2 separate regions of the Homo sapiens genome follow, and region 1 is linked to region 2. Evidence: fine-mapped expression QTL. Tissue or cell type: lung. Region 2 holds a variant in brackets; the other region holds the start of a gene. All regions are shown on one strand. Distances are between the middles of the regions.

Region 1 (8,099 bases), 27 kb before region 2:
ATTCCTGACCACCCTGGGCAACATAGCAAAACCCCATCTCAGGCCAGGCACAGTGGCTCACGCCTGTAATCCTAGCACTTTGGGAGACGAAGGTGGGCGGATCACTTGAGGGCAGGAGTTCAAGACCAGCCTGGCCAACATGGTGAAACCCTATCTCTACTAAAAATAAAAAAATTAGATGGGCATGGTGGCGGGCACCTGTAATCACAGCTACTCGGGAGGCTGAGGCAGAAGAATCACTCGAACCCGGGAGGCGGAGGTTGCAGTGAGCAAAGATCTGTGTCATTGCACTCCAGCCTGGGCAACAAAGCAAGACTTCTTCTCAAAAACAACAACAACAACAACAAAAAAAACAGACGAAATCCTTATAATGTCCTACAAAGCCCTTCAAAATTACCTTCTCCCCATTATATCTCTGAACGCCCTTCCTTCTTCCACTTTGATCCAGACACATACATTCCTTCTGGCTGCTCCTTAAACTTGCCAGGTATGTACTTGCTTAATAGCCTTTGCTGCATTCCCTCTGCCTGGAATGTTCTTCCCAAATATCTAATTGGCTGCCTACCCTGACCACCCTATTTAACTCTGCACTCTGCCCTCAGAGTGGGGGCAGCCCACTTTTTCTTTTCCATAGCATTTAACATCTTTTGGGCATGGCGCAGTGGCTCACGCCTGTAATCCCAACACTTTGGGAGGCCGAGGTGGGCAGATCACGAGGTCAAGAGATCGAGACCATCCTGGCCAACATGGTTAAACCCCATCTCTACTAAAAATACAAAAATTAGCTGGGCGTGGTGATGTGCACCTGTAGTCCCAGATACTCGGGAGGCTGAGGCAGGAGAATTGCTTGAACCCAGGAGGTGGAGGTTGCAGTGAGTAGAGGTTGTGCCACTGCACTCCAGCCTGGCAACAGAGTGAGACCCCGTCTCCGTCCACCATCTAGACAGGGCTCTTTTTTTTTTTTTTTTTTTTTGAGCTAGAGTTTCACTCTTGTTGTCCAGGCTGGAGAGCAATGGCGCGATCTTGGCTCACTGCAACCTCCGCCTCCCAGATTCAAGCAATTCTCCTGTCTCAGCCTCCTGCGTAGCTGGGATTACAGGCATGCGCCACCACACCTGGCTAATTTTTGTATTTTTAGTAGAGATGGGGTTTCACCATGTTGCTCAGGCTGGTCTTGAACTCCTGACCTCAGGTGTTCCACCCACCCTGGCCTCCCAAAGTGCTGGGATTACAGGCGTGAGCCACTGTGCCCGGCCGACAGAGCTCTTTATTATGTTCACTGATGTATTCCAGGAGCCCAGCCTGGGACATCATAAATATTTGTGAAGTAAATGAATTAGTTGTAAGGCTTAGAGATATTGGTGCTCAGTAAATACTTGGTATCACTATTATTAATAGGTCATAGGCCCAAGCTTTGAGCCTACACTGTAGTTAAAAGCAAACTGGGCCGGCCGTGGTGGCTCACGCCTGTAATCCCAGCACTTTGGGAGGCCGAGGCGGGCGGATCACTAGGTCAGGAGATTGAGACCATCCTGGCTAACAAGGTGAAACCTCGTCTCTACTAAAAAATAGAAAAAATTAGCCAGGCATGGTGGCAGGCACCTATAGTCCCTGCTACTCGGGAGGCTGCTGAGGCAGGAGAATGGCGTGAGCCCGGGAGGCGGAGCTTGCAGTGAGCCGAGATCGCACCACTGCACTCCAGCCTGGGCAACAGAGCCAGACTCTGTCTCAAAAAAAAAAAAAAAACAAAAAAAGCAAAGTGGAGCCAGGTGCAGTGGCTCACGCCTGTAATTTGGGAGGCCAAGGCGGGAAGATCACCTGAGGTTAGGAGTTCGAGACCACCCTGGCCAACATGGTGAAACCCTGTCTTTTTGTAAAAACACAAAAATTAACCAGACATGGTGGCGGGCGCCTGTAGTCCCAGCTATCTGGGAGGCTGAGGTGGGAGAACCGCTTGAACCAGGAAGCGGAGGTTGCAGTGAACCGAGATCGTGCCACTGCACTCCAGCCTGGGCGATAGAGAGAGACTCCATCTCAAAAAAAAAAAAAAAGCAAATTGGAGCCAAGAGAGGTAACTCACCCCAGTAATCCCAGCACTTTGGAAGGCAGAGGTGGGGGGATTGTTTGAGGCCAGGAGTTTGAGACAGCCTGGTCAACATAGTGAGACCCCCATTTCTGCAAAAATTAAAAAATTAGACGGACCTGGTGGTGTGAACCTGTCATCCCAGCTACTTAGGAGGCTGAGGCAGGAGGATCGCTTGAACTGAGGAGTTGGAGGCTGCAGTGAGCCAAGATGGTGCCACTGCACAACAGCCTGGGTAACAGACGGAAACCCTGTCTCAAAAAAAAAACAAAAAAAAATTAAAGTGGCACACTTGCAGTTGGACATTAGGAAGATTAACATATCAATACTGCTTAGGAGTAGTACAGGTAGGGTGGGGCCGTGCTGGAAGGATGGGAAGAGGGAGGCCGAAAAACAAATTGGTTCTTTTCAAACCATCCCTGATCTCCTCCCCGACTTTTATAAGTCTTATCTATAGGGAACACAACTATTCGAGACATACTCTGTGCCTGGCGCCGGGTTTACAAGAGGGGGTCGTGTCCCACTTCCCTGGCGAACTCCTACGAATCCTTCAATACCCGGCGGTACCCTCTGCCAGTAAAGGCTCATAAAACACGCTACAGTCACAGGATCTCCTCAGATCAGTGGAGGCGGCAGGAAGGCGTCCCAGGGAAGGGTTAACTTAAGCGAGATCCCAGCAGAGAAGCAGGTCGAAGATCCCCGGGCAGCGCGAAAGGAGGTTCAGAGAGCCCACCCCATCTCCTGCAACATCTCTCCAATGCAGGCACACACACGGGGTCCCCACGAGCACAGACACACAACCAACCGTCCTCTTTCCAGTCCCCACAAGGGACCTTCAAAGGGTCTCCTCCGGGGTACCACTCAGACCCGCCCCCGCCACCCGAGCGCGGGGAGCAGGAAAACTCTAGCGGCAGCCGAGACGCTGCTCACCCGGCGCTCGGCGCCATCTTGGCCCCGCCCCCTCGTGGGAGCAGGTCCTGGCAGAGCCTAAGAGCAAGTCACTGCCCCTTCCCCGTACCAGAATAAGTCCTCTAGGCTCGCAGAATGAAATTATATTTTAAAAGTTTGTTTCTACATCTATATATAAGGAGCACTCCCTCTTGGTGTAATTACTGCAATTTATTCCTTCACTACCCGGCTGCCAGGACCTTCAAGAGGCGCCACAAAACGGAGGCAGGGAAACCCGTAGCAACGAGGCCCCACCCTTGTTGGGCTGATCCTGCGCATGCGCCGACCTTCCTCGGCTGGATTTAAGGTTGCCGCTAGCCGCCTGGGAATTTAAGGGACCCACACTACCTTCCCGAAGTTGAAGGCAAGCGGTGATTGTTTGTAGACGGCGCTTTGTCATGGGACCTGTGCGGTTGGGAATATTGCTTTTCCTTTTTTTGGCCGTGCACGAGGCTTGGGCTGGGATGTTGAAGGAGGAGGACGATGACACAGAACGCTTGCCCAGCAAATGCGAAGGTATTTGAAGGGGGTAGCCCCTATAGGCATCGCCCGGCCACACCTCCTTCTTCTAGGCCGGACATCCTAGCCTGTATTGGGTGGGTCACCCGACCTCCTTGAAGGCTTGAGGGAGGTTCTGGTGGAGCTTGGCTGAATTTGGATGGGGTCAAGGAAGCGAACGTGTAGTGCCACCTCAAACTGCATCCAGAGAGAGCCTGCATTTTTTTGGCTGGCTTGGAACCCCCCGCCCGCCAATGGATTGTGGGAATTGTAGTTCAGGGACCATCGGCCCGGGACTGCCAACTTTTAGAGCATCTTCAGTGAGTGTTTACCTCATGTCACCAGACCTTAATCTGCAGAGGCTGCAGGAGCCGGGTGTGAGGCTCAGGCCTTGTGGACATCCGCTGCCCTACCCTAGCATAGACGCTCCCAAATTACAGGCCCCACACCCCGCTGAGGGGGTTTGAGGGTGAGTAATTCAGCCTTTGAAGCTCATAAACAAAAGGAAGCCACACAACTAGGAGAGTGTCCCCATCCGGTGAGACTTTGCAGACGGTGCGTACTATATGGATTTTTCAGCAAGCAGCGCCTTCCATAGCTGCACTAGCGTGGGGCCCAGTTGAGAAAGGGGGCTGGCCCTGATGCCCTAGTTTGCTGCCCTCCTGACTTTACGTTTCTTCCCTGGATTCCTTTTCTCTTCGCTTCACCCCCTCAACTGTATTCCAGTATCATGAAAGGCAGTCATGACAGTCTCATGACTTGGTCCTCATCTCTGTCTCCTTTCACCTCCGTGTGCCGCTCTTCTCCCCTGACCTGTCAATCTTTTTAAACAGACTTAATCACCTAATTGTATCAGTCCTTGCTTTAACACCTCTGCAGGCCTTCTATCAGAATACAGCCAACGGGCCTGGGCACAGTGGCTCACATCTGTAATCCCAGCACTTTGGAAGGCCAAGGTGGGAGGATCACTTGAGCCCATGAGTTCAGGCCCAGCTTCACCACAGCTTGTCATCCTTGGTTTATCTGTCCCAACTACACTGACAGAGACCTGTAGATAGAGATAATAGGTCTTATTGCTGTCTATATTGTTAGTATGCATACAGAAGGAGCTCAATAAATAACTGCAGGATAACAGTGAATACTTATACAGTGCTCACTATGTGCCAGCCTTTATATATGTTGATTTATTTAATCTTCATCACACTCCTATGAGGGACATACTATTATTATCCAATTGTATTAATTTTATATATATATATATATATATATATATTTTTTTTTTTTTTTTTTTTTTTTTTTTTTTTTTCTCTTTTCAGACAGCGTCTCATGCCGTTGCCCAGGCTGGAGTGCAGTGGTGCAATCTCGCTCACTGCAACCTCCGCCTCCCGGGTTCAAGCGATTCTCCTGCCTCAGCCTCCCAAGTAGCTGGGATTACAGGCGCCCGCCACCATGCCCAGCTAATTTTTGTATTTTTAGTAGAGACAAGGTTTCACTATGTTGGCCAGGATGGTCTCAATCTCTTGACCTCGTGATCCACCCACCTCAGCCTCCCAAAGTGTTGGGATTACAGGCATGAGTCACTGTGCTGGCCTATTTATTTTTAATGTATTTTACTTTTTTTAAGATGGAGTCTCCCTTTGTTGCCTGGGCTGGGGTGCAGTGGTGGGATCTCAGCTCACTGCAACCTCCACCTCCTGGGTTCGAGTGATTCTCCTGCCTCAGCTTCCCGAGTAGCTATTACAGGTGCGCACCACCACACCTGGCTAGTTTTTGTATTTTTAATAGAGATGGGGTTTCACCATGTGGGCCAGGCTGGTCTTGAACTCCTCAAGTGATCTGCCCGCCTCAGCCTCCCAAAGTGCTGGGATTACAGGTGTGAGCCACCACTCCTGGCCTATTATCCCATTATAAAGATGAAGAAACCGGCCGGGCGTGGTGGCTCACGCCTGTAATCCCAGTACTTTGGGAGGCCAAGGCGGGCGGATCACAAGGTCAGCTGATCGAGACCATCCTGGCTAACACGGTGAAACCCTGTCTCTACTAAAAATACAAAAAATTAGCCGGGCGTGGTGGTGGGTGCCTGTAGTCCCAGCTACTCGGGAGACTGAGGCAGGAGAATGGCGTGAACCCAGGAGGCGGAGCTGGCAGTGAGCCGAGACTGCGCCACTGCACTACAGCCTGGGCGACAGAGCGAGAGTCCGTCTGAAAAAAAAAAAAAAAAAGATGAAGAAACCGAGGCACAGCAAGCAGGAAGATTGCCACACAGCTGCTAAATGGCTGAGCCAGGATTCCAACCCAGCCAGTCTGGCTCCATAGTCTGCACTTGTATGCTCTGCTGCCTCAGGTCATCTGCAGAATGAATGGCTGGTGTGTTTGTCTTTTACCTCCCCCCGGACGTTTCTCCTCCCCACCAGTGTGTAAGCTGCTGAGCACAGAGCTACAGGCGGAACTGAGTCGCACCGGTCGATCTCGAGAGGTGCTGGAGCTGGGGCAGGTGCTGGATACAGGCAAGAGGAAGAGACACGTGCCTTACAGCGTTTCGTGAGTCCTTCGTGCTCCTCCCCTTTCCAACCCCCAACGGAGCCCTGGGAGTTCCTACAGCATCCAGGGAATCTTTGTTTCCTCTCTTTCCACAGAGAGACAAGGCTGGAAGAGGCCTTAGAGAATTTATGTGAGCGGATCCTGGACTATAGTGTTCACGCTGAGCGCAAGGGCTCACTGAGATATGCCAAGGTCAGACCCTTCCCCAGGGCAGGACCCCACTTCTCAGATACAAAGATCTGTATCCCCTGAGGCCCTCCAGAGGTTATCTGCCCATCATCTCACCATCATGGAACTCACCCTTGAATCTCCAGTAGTTGACAAAACTGAAATGGCAGAAAGGGGAAGGGAGGGGTGGGGTGGTGAGCTGGGCTGATGCCAAATTCTTAATCTCTCAGGGTCAGAGTCAGACCATGGCAACACTGAAAGGCCTAGTGCAGAAGGGGGTGAAGGTGGATCTGGGGATCCCTCTGGAGCTTTGGGATGAGCCCAGCGTGGAGGTCACATACCTCAAGAAGCAGGTAGGATAAGACACTGCACCATCCAGGGAGGTGAGAAGGGAACCTGAGAGGGGAGCTAGGTTCTAGGGTTTGACTATAGGGGATGTCTACCCCTAAGCATGGGGAAGGGGCCAGAGTGAGGACTGTGCCATTGATTAAAGTGGGTCCAGGAGCGGTGGGGTGCGGTGGCTCACACCTGTAATCCCAGCAATTTGGGAGGCTGAGGCAGGTGGATCACCTGAGGTCATAAGTTCGAGACCAGCCTGGCCAACAAGGCAAAACCCCGTCTTTAATAAAAACACAAAAGTTAGCTGGGCGTGGTGGTGCACGCCTGTGATCCCAGCTACTTGGGAGGCTGAGGCAAGAGAATTGCTTGAATCCAGGAGGTGGAGGTTGCCATGAGCCAAGATCGCACCATTGCACTCCAGCCAGGGCGACAGAGCAAGACTCCATCTTAAAAAAAAAAACAAAAACAAAAACAAAAAAAAAGAAATCATAATGAGCCGGGTGGAGTGGCTCACAACTGTAATGCTAGCACTTAGTGAGTCTGAGGGAGAAGGACTGTTTGAGACCAGAGTTAGAGACCAGCTTGTGCAACATAAGAGACCCCCTTCTCTACAAATAATAATAATTTTAAAGAATTTTTTTTTTCAAGACGGAGTTTCACTCTTATTGCCCAGGCTGGAGTGCACCGGCACCATCTCGGCTCACCGCGACCTCCGCCTCCCGGGTTCAAGCCATTCTCCTGCTTCAGCCTCCCGAGTAGCTGGGATTACAGGCCCCTGCCACCACGCCCAGCTAATTTTTTGTAATTTTAGTAGAGACGGGGTTTCATCATGTTGGCCAGGCTGGTCGAACTCCTGACCTCAGGTGATCCACCCGCCTTGGCCTCCCAAAGTGCTGGGATTACAGGCATGAGCCATTGGGCCCTGCCTTAAGGAAAATTTTTAAAAAGTAATAATGGGCCAGGTGCGATGGCTCACGTATGTAATCCCAGCACTTTGGGAGGGCGAGACAGGCGGATCACGACATCAGGGGTTCAAGACCAGCCGGGCCATCATAGTGAAACCCTGTCTCTACTAAAAATACAAGAATTAGCCGGGCGTGGTGGTGTGGTGGCATGCATCTGTAGTCCCAGCTACTCAGGAAGCTGAGGCAGGAGAATCACTTGAACCCGGGAGGCGGAGGTTGCAGTGAGCTGAGATCCCACCACTGCAGTCCAGCCTGGGTGACAGAGCGAGACTCCATCTCAAAAAAAAAAAAAAGTAACAATGGTTGCTAATGATATCCACCATCACTTATTGAGCACCTACTGTGTCCCAGACTCTGGACCAGATACTTTGCATCTGTAGCCTCATTTTACCCTTAACAGCCTGATGTGGTAGGTGCAATTACCATACATATTTTACAGGCAAGGAGCTGAGACTCAAGAGTTTAATAATCTACTTGGCAGAATAGGTGCTGGTAAATGTTTGTTGAATGAATGAGGATTGCACATCTAGTAGGCCAAACTTAGCTTCCTGGCTACC
Region 2 (8,101 bases):
AATTTTAAGATCTCAGTGGCCGGGCAGTGCAGCTCACACCTGAAATTCCAGCACTGTGCAAGGCTGAGGCACAGATCACTTGAGACCAGGAGTTCAAGAGCAGCCTGGGCAACATAGCGAGACCTCATCTCTGTAACAAACAATAACAAACAAAAATTTAAAAATAAGTTTGTGGATTTAGGCATGTTTGTTATGTTTCAATTCACTGCAGTTATTGTCCTGATTGATTTCAAAATATTCTTTTTTTTTTTTTGTCCAGTGGAAGCCTCTTCAAGTTGGCCTTTGAGTTCTTTTGACACAACCCTAGTCACCAATAAAGTTATCTTTTTATTTATTTATTTATTTGTCTATTCTTTGAGAAGGAGTCACATTCTGTTGTCCAGGCTGGAGTGCAGTGGTGTGATCTCCATTCACTGCAACCTCCACCTCCCGGATTCAAGCGATTCTCCTGCCTCAGCCACCTGAGTAGCTGGGATTACAGGCACATGCCACCACGCCTGGCTAATTTTTATATTTTTAGTAGAGACGGGGTTTCAAAGTGTTGGCCAGGCTGGTCTTTAACACCTGACCTCGTGATCCGCCTGCCTCGGCCTCCCAAAGTGCTGAGATTACAGGCGTAAACCACTGCGCCCAGCCTAAAGTTATCTTTAACTTCATTCTGTGGTTTTATTATTACTTTTTCCTTTTTTTTTTTTTTGAGACTGAGTCTCGCTCTATCATCCGGGCTGGAGTGCAGTAGTGCGATCTTGGCTCACTGCAACCTCTGTCTCCCAGGTTCAAGGCCTGAGCCTCCCGAGTAGCTGGGATTACAGGTGCCTGCCAATATGTGCAGCCAATTTTTGAATTTTTAGTAGAGACAGGATTTGGCCGCTATCGGGGGAAATTCACCCCCAATATTTCACATAGCTTCTTTTCTATATTCCCTAAGAGTCGGCCGGTCTGAGAAATAAAGGGACAGAGTACAAAAAAGAGAAATTTTAAAGCTGGGTGTCCAGGGAAGACATCACATGTCGGCAGGTTCCGTGATGACTAATAAAAACCAGCAAGTTTTTATTAGTGATTTTTTCAAAAGGGGAGGGAGTGTACGAATAGGGTGTGGGTCACAGAGATCACATGCTTCACAAGGTAATAAGATATCACAAGGTAAATGGAGGCAGGGCGAGATCACAGGACCACAAGACGGGACAAATTAAAATTGCTAATGAAGTTTCGGGCACGCATTGTCATTGATAACATCTTATCAGGAGACAGGTTTGAGCAGACAACTGGTCTGACCAAAATTTATTAGGCGGGAATTTCTTCGTCCTAATAAGCCTGGGAGCGCTACGGGAGACTGGGGCTTATTTCATCCCTACAGCTTCGACCATGAAAGACGGCCGCCCCACAAAGCGGCCATTTCAGAGGCCTACCCTCAGGGACACACTCTCTTTCTCAGGGATGCTCCTTGCTGAGAAAAAGAATTCAGCAATATTTCTCCCATTTGCTTTTGAAAGAAGAGAAATATGGCACTGTTCCACCCGGCTCACCGGCAGTCAGAGTTTAAGGTTATCTCTCTTGTTCCCTGAACATTGCTGTTATCCTGTTCTTTTTTCAAGGTGCCCAGATTTCATATTGTTCAAACACACATCCTCTACAAACAATTTGTGTTAACACAATCATCACAGGGTCCTGAGGTGACATACATCCTCCTCAGCTTACCAAAATGACGGGATTAAGAGATTAAAGACAGGCATAGGAAATCACAAGGGTATTGATTGGGGAAGTGATAAGCGTCCATGAAATCTTCACAATTTACATTCAGAGATTGCAGTAAAGACAGGCGTAAGAAATTATAAAAGTATTAATTTGGGGAACTAATAAATGTCCATGAAATCTTCACAATCCACGTTCTTCTGCCATGGCTTCAGCCAATCCCTCCGTTTGGGGTCCCTGACTTCCCACAACAGGCCACGTTGGCCAGGCTGGTCTCAAACTCCTGAGCTAAAAAATTAGCCGGGCGTGGTGGCAGACGCCTGTAGTCCCAACTACTCGGGAGGCTGAGGCAGGAGAATGATGTGAACCCGGGAGGAGGAGTTTGCAGTGAGCTGAGATCACGCCACTGCACTCTAGCCAGCCTGGGCGGGAAAAAAAAAAAAAAAAAAAGAGAGAGACAAACTCAATAGAAAAATGAGAAAAGAGTTGAACTGGGCCGGCATGGTGGCTCATGCCTGTAATCCCAGCACTTTGGGAGGCCGAGGTGGGTAGATCACTTAAGGTCAGGAGTTTGAGACCAGCCTGGCCAACATGGTCAACATGGTGAAACCCCCTTTCTACTAAAAACCCAAAAAAATTAGTCGTGCCTGGTGGTGCGTGCCTGTAATCCCAGCTACTCGGGAGGCTGAGGCAGGAGGATTGCTTGAACCTGGGAGGTGGAGGTTGCAGTGGGCCGAGATCGCACCACCGCTCTCTAGCCTGGGCAACAGAGGAAGACTATCTCAAAAAAAAAATAAATAAATAAGCCAGTTGCAGTGGCTCATGCCTGTAATCGTAGCACTTTGGGAGGCCGAGGCAGGTGGATTGCTCTGAGCTCAGGAGTTCAAGACCAGCCTGGGCAACACGGTGAAACCCCGTCTCTACTAAAAATACAAAAAAAAAAGCCGGGATGGCAACGTGCCCCTGTAGTCCCAGCTACTTGGGAGGCTGAGGCAAGGGAATTGCTTGAATCCAGGAGGCGGAGGTTGCAGTGAGCCAAGAGCGCACCATTGCACTCCAGCCTGGGCAACATAGCAAGACTCTGTCTCAAAAAAAAAAAAAAGTTGAACTGATACTTCACAAAAGATGATATCCCAAAAGCCAAACCTGTCTGAAAATGTGATCAACCTCATTAATATTTAGGTAAATGCAAATAAAAACTACAATGAGAAGCCATCGCATATCCAAAAACTTTACCCTAAAAGTGTGGCAATACTGGCTGGGCATGGTGGCTCAGGCCTGTAATCCCAACACTTTGGGAGGCTGATGCAGGCAGATCACGAGGTCAAGAGATCAAGACTATCCTGGCCAACATGGTGAAACCCATCTCTACTAAAAATACAAAAATTAGCTGGGTGTGGTGGTGCGCTCCTGTAGTCCCAGCTACTCGGGAGGCTGAGGCAGAAGAATTGCTTGAACCCGGGAACCAGGAGGTGGAGGTTGCAGTGAGCTGAGATTGCGCCACTGCACTCCAGCCTGGGCAACAGAACAAGACTGTCTCAAAAAAAAAACAAAAAACAAAAAGTGTGGCAATACCATGTGTTAATGGAGCTGGAGATAACTGGGAACTCTGACACATTGCTAGAGGAGTGTGAGTTGGTCCAACCAGTTTGATTTGCAGACCATAGATAAAAAAGATAGGAAACTCTCTGATTCATTTTATCTGGCAACCTGCTCTTTCTACCAAAAGCAGATAAAGAATATACCAAAAAGAAACTACAGCCCAATCTCATTTATCATAATAGATTTTAAAAATTCTAAATAAAGCAGTAAAACAAATGGGTAGTATAATTTGTTCCAGCAGATTTTATTCCAGAAACACAAAGATGGTTAAATATCAAGAATACTGCCACCATAATTTATTACATCAAAATCTTTTTTTTTTCTTTTGAGACGGAGTTTCATTCTTGTTGCCCAGGTTGGAGTGCAATGGCACAATCTCAGCTCATTGCAACCTTCGCCTCCTGGATTCAAGGATTCTCCTGCCTCAGCCTCCCCAGTAGCTGGGATTACAGGCATGCACCACCACACCCACCTAGTTTTTTTTTTTTTTGTTTGTTTGTTTTGTATTTTTAGTAGTGATGAGGTTTCACCATGTTGGCCAGGCAGGTCTCGAACTCCTGACTTCAGGTGATCCACCCGCCTTGGTCTCCCAAAGTGCTGGGATTACAGGTGTGAGCTACCACGCCCAGCCTTGAAATTGCTGTTTCTAACAAGTCTTAAAAGACACCCAGACTTTAACAATTGTTATTATATTCAGATTTTTTTGTTGCTTTTTGAGACAATCTTGCTCTTTTACCCAGTCTTGAGTGCAGTAGCATGATCATGGCTCACTGCAGCCTCAACCTCCTGGGCTCAAGCGATTCTCCCACCTCAGCCTCCCGGGTAGCTGGGACTACATGTGCAGTATCATGCCTGGTTAATTTTTAAATTTTTAGAGATGGGGTCTTGCTATGTTGCCCAGGCTTCTAGAATCATTCTTCATATTATTTCACTAACACAGCCTCCACCACATTAATATGGCAACAGGTTTAGAAATTATTTAAAACAAAAATTTCTAATGTTTACATATATTGTGTGATGTGTGTGTGTGTGTGTGTGTGTGTGTGTGTGTGTATCATTCCAAGGTACTGTTTCTAATTTTTTCCTGTAGGGAATGAATATTCAGTATTGCAGCTGCATTGGCTAGCTGGGGATTCTATTTACCACCACATTGTCCCGGACTGAATCTGGGGACAAAAAAACCACTTCGGGAACAAATTCTTGTCTTCAACAAAGAGCTGTCTTGAGTAGGCACAAAAGTAGCATTTGAGGGCCGGACGCGGTGGCTCAAGCCTGTAATCCCAGCACTTTGGGAGGCCGAGGCGGGCGGATCACGAGGTCAGGAGTTTGAGACCAGCCTGGCCAATATGGTGAAACCC[T/G]ATCTCTACTAAAAACACAAAAATAGCCGGGCGTGGTGGTGGGCGCCTGTAATCCCAGCTACTCGCGAGGCTGAGGCAGGAGAATTGCTTGAACACGGGAGGCGGAAGTTGTATTGAGCCAGAGATCGCGCCATTGCACTGCAACCTGGGCGACCGAGTGAGACTCCGACTCAAAAAAAAAAAAAAGTAGCATTTGAGTACCTTTTTTTTCCTTTTCTTTTCTTTTTTTTTTAGAGGAAGGGCACCCAGGCTGGAGTGCAGTGGCACCATAATAGCTCACTGCACTCTGCAACTGCTGAGCTCAAGAGATTCTCCTCCATCAGCCTCCCTAGTAGCTGGAATTACTGGCGTGAGGCACCATGCCCGGCTTATTTTCTTATTTTTTTGTAGAGGTGGTTGGAGCGGGGGGACTGGGGAGGGTCTCGCTATGTTGCTCAGGCTCGTCTCGAACTCTTGCCCTGAAATGATCCGTCCTCGGCCTCGCAAAGCGCTGAGATTACAGGCGTGAGCCACGGCGCCCAGCCTTGAATAGTTTTTCACATGCATTGCACGTTATTTCCTTTTATTCTCTAGTTTTTGGGTCCAGTCTTAAACCTGGGAAGGGATTCATTTGGGGGGGTCACACCAGCGGGCATCCTGGCTCAGGCGGAACTCTGGCTCCAGACAGTGCGCCCAGGACCAAACGGTCAACCCCGGCCTACTCCCGCCCCTCCCAGATCCTCCCCTCCTCGGACGCTCCCGCGTCTTCCTCTCGCTCAGGCACTGAGGGGCGGGGAGATGGGTGTTAAAGAGGGGATATCACCAATCAACGTGCGCCTCCGGGAAACAGCGCTTCGCACTGGCTGGTTGGGTCTGACGACGTGGCCACTGTCCAATCCTCATGCTAGAGGCGGGGCTAAAGGCCAGTGGCGCAAGCAGAAGGAGGAGCGCAGCGGCTGCAAGCACGTGACCGGGGCCTGAAGCCGGAAGCTACCTATCTGGTAGGGAGCTCCCCCAGCACCGAAGACTGCGATGGTGAGTGAGGACGCATGCGCGAGAGGACCCGCCGGGGGTTCAGCGTCTCTGCTCCCCAGTCTGTGTGGTTTCCCCCTGGTGGGCCTGCGCTCCACCCTCACCTCCTATCCGCTCGGGGAGGAAGAGGGGATGGAAATGGGAGGGATGGCGACGAGAATGCTGGGGAGGGGTCTGTGGGAGGGTGTTCTGGGGCTGCGGGTAGTCTGCAGGTCGGGCGGAGACGAAGGGAGGTGAAGAGAGGGTCTGGGGGCAGGGGCCAGTGGGGCAGCAAAGGCCCCTTGGGGTAGCAAAGGTGGGATGTGGAAGGCCAGGGGAGCCCGGGGGCGAGAGTGGGGGCAGATGGAGGCTCGGGAAGATCAGTATTGAGGACCATGTAGGGGGGAGGGGGCCGGGAAGGGACCTGGCTGGGGAATGAGAAAACCTGGGGCCATCGTCAACCCAGAGACTTGGGTTTGCAGGTGAAGGGTATCGGGCCGTCCATCCCTCTAGCATGCTTCTCACGACTTGCATCTTTACCCACTAGACTTCTGCGCTGACCCAGGGGCTGGAGCGAATCCCAGACCAGCTCGGCTACCTGGTACTGAGTGAAGGTGCAGTGCTGGCGGTGCGTTCTGGGAAAGGGAGGGGGTCCCTTAGTGCACACAGCCCGGTAACCCCTTCTAATATTGGCCCTTCTTTTCTCGGCTTTTATCTGGTTTCCTGCCTGGCATCTATTAGGTTGGTACAAAAGTATTTGCAGTTTTTGCAATTACTTTCAGTAATCAGTCTGTGGAATCTTAGTCTCCTAACGGCTGCGATTTATTTATTTATAGTTTTTGAGACTGAGTTTCGTTCTTGTTGCCCAAGCTGGAGTGCAGTGGTGCGACCTCGGCTCACTGCAACCTCCGCCTCCGGGGTTCAAGCGATTCTCCTGCCTCAGCCTCCCGAGTAGCTGGGATTATAGGCACGTGCCACCATGCTCTGCTAATTTTTTGTATTTTTAGTAGAAACGGGGTTTCACCGTGTTAGCCAGGCTGGTCTCAAACTCCTGACCTCAGGTGATCCACCTGCCTCAGCCTCCCAAAGTGCTGGGATTACAGGCGTGAGCCAACATGCCTGGCCTTTATTTGGTATTTCTTAAAAAGGCATTTGTATTTTGTTCCATAGTACTGTATGGTGTTAGGTCTCTAGATTACAGGCGTGAGCCACCACGTCTGGCCTTTATTTGGTATTTCTTAAAGAGGCATTTGTATTTTGTTCCATAGTACTGTATAGTGTTAAGTCTCCAGATGTTTTTGACTTAGGTAGAGACAAAGCTTAAGGTTAAGGGTTGAAAACAATACAGGTGGTAAAGACTATTGAGGGAATCCAGGATATTAAAAATTCAACATGTTATGACAAGGTAACTAACTTTCCGGGAGGTAGGAATTCAGCCCACCTTAAAGGAGAGTATTTACAGTGGGGGAGGACTTATTTGCAGGTGTGTGGCACTAACCTATCTGAACTGATGGTAAGTTTATGCTGAAAAGATTTGGGAAGGTTTGAGGGAAGAGAGGAGGATATGGTCAGGGAGGATGTAATTGTGAAGGATCTTCAAGGCCAGGTTAACACACTTGAACTTATTCTTGAAGGTAATACAGTTTGAAAGGTTTTTTAAAACAGAAACAAGACCCAGTGAGGTGGTTGAGCAATATTGTTGTTAGTGATGTGAAGATGGGCAGAAGGAGGCGTCATTAAGAGATGAGACTGGGCTGGGCGTGGTGGTTCATGCCTGTAATTCTAGCACTTTGGGAGGCCAAGGCGGGCGGATCACGAGGTCAGGAGATCGAGACCATCCTGGCCAACACGGTGAAACCCCGTCTGTACTAAAAATACAAAAACAAAATTAGCCAGGCCTGGTGGCGGGCACTTGTAGTCCCAGCTACTCGGGAAGCTGAGGCAGTAGAATGGCGTGAACCTGGAAGGTGGAGGTTGCAGTTAGCCGAGATCACACCACTGTACTCCAGCCTGGGCGACAGAGCAAGACTCCGTCTCAAAAAAAACAAAAAAAAAAAGAGATGAGACTGGGCAAGTGGTGGTAAGAAGGAGGAGCAAGGAGAGAAGAGTTTTGTTTTTGTTTTTTTTTGTTTTTGTTTTTTGAGACAGAGTCTCGCTCTGTGGCCCAGGCTGGAGTGCAGTGGCATGATCTCAGCTCACTGCAACCTCCGTCTTCCGGGTTCAAGTGATTTTCCTGCCTCAGCCTCCTGATTAGCTAGGATTACAGGTGTGCACCACCATGCCCAGCTAATTTTTGTATTTTTAGTAGAGAGAGGGTTTCACCATGTTGGCCGGGCTGGTCTCGAACTCCTGACCTCATGATTTGCCCGCCTCAGCCTCCCACCCAAAGTGCTGGGATTACAGGCATAAGCCACTGCACCCGGCCTGTTTTTTTGTTTTTGTTTTTGTTTTTTTTGAGA

The links. PIP is the estimated chance that this variant, and not a neighbour inherited with it, causes the effect.
Region 1: CNPY4 starts here. The variant in region 2 is fine-mapped to the expression of CNPY4 in lung (TOPMed, PIP above 0.99). The same link has a PIP of 0.9 or more in breast, gastroesophageal junction, skeletal muscle, subcutaneous fat, transverse colon and visceral fat.

Annotation. Positions count from the first base shown.
Region 1 is chr7:100,116,316-100,124,414 of GRCh38, forward strand. CNPY4 (canopy FGF signaling regulator 4) reads left to right here and starts at 3,319. Exons shown (of 6, transcript NM_152755.2): 1 at 3,319-3,547; 2 at 5,944-6,070; 3 at 6,166-6,262; 4 at 6,469-6,591. The coding sequence starts at 3,430. TAF6 (TATA-box binding protein associated factor 6) reads right to left here and starts at 3,043. Exons shown (of 15, transcript NM_139315.3): 1 at 2,889-3,043. RefSeq lists enhancers at 2,996-3,145, 3,356-3,575, 3,946-4,015.
Region 2 is chr7:100,143,310-100,151,410 of GRCh38, forward strand. It overlaps LAMTOR4 (late endosomal/lysosomal adaptor, MAPK and MTOR activator 4), which reads left to right and starts at 5,609. Exons shown (of 4, transcript NM_001008395.4): 1 at 5,609-5,666; 2 at 6,190-6,270. The coding sequence starts at 5,664. RefSeq lists enhancers at 4,612-5,224, 5,249-5,308, 5,579-5,688, 5,837-6,449 and silencers at 5,989-6,078, 6,089-6,178. The variant T/G (reference allele first, on the strand shown) is at 4,653.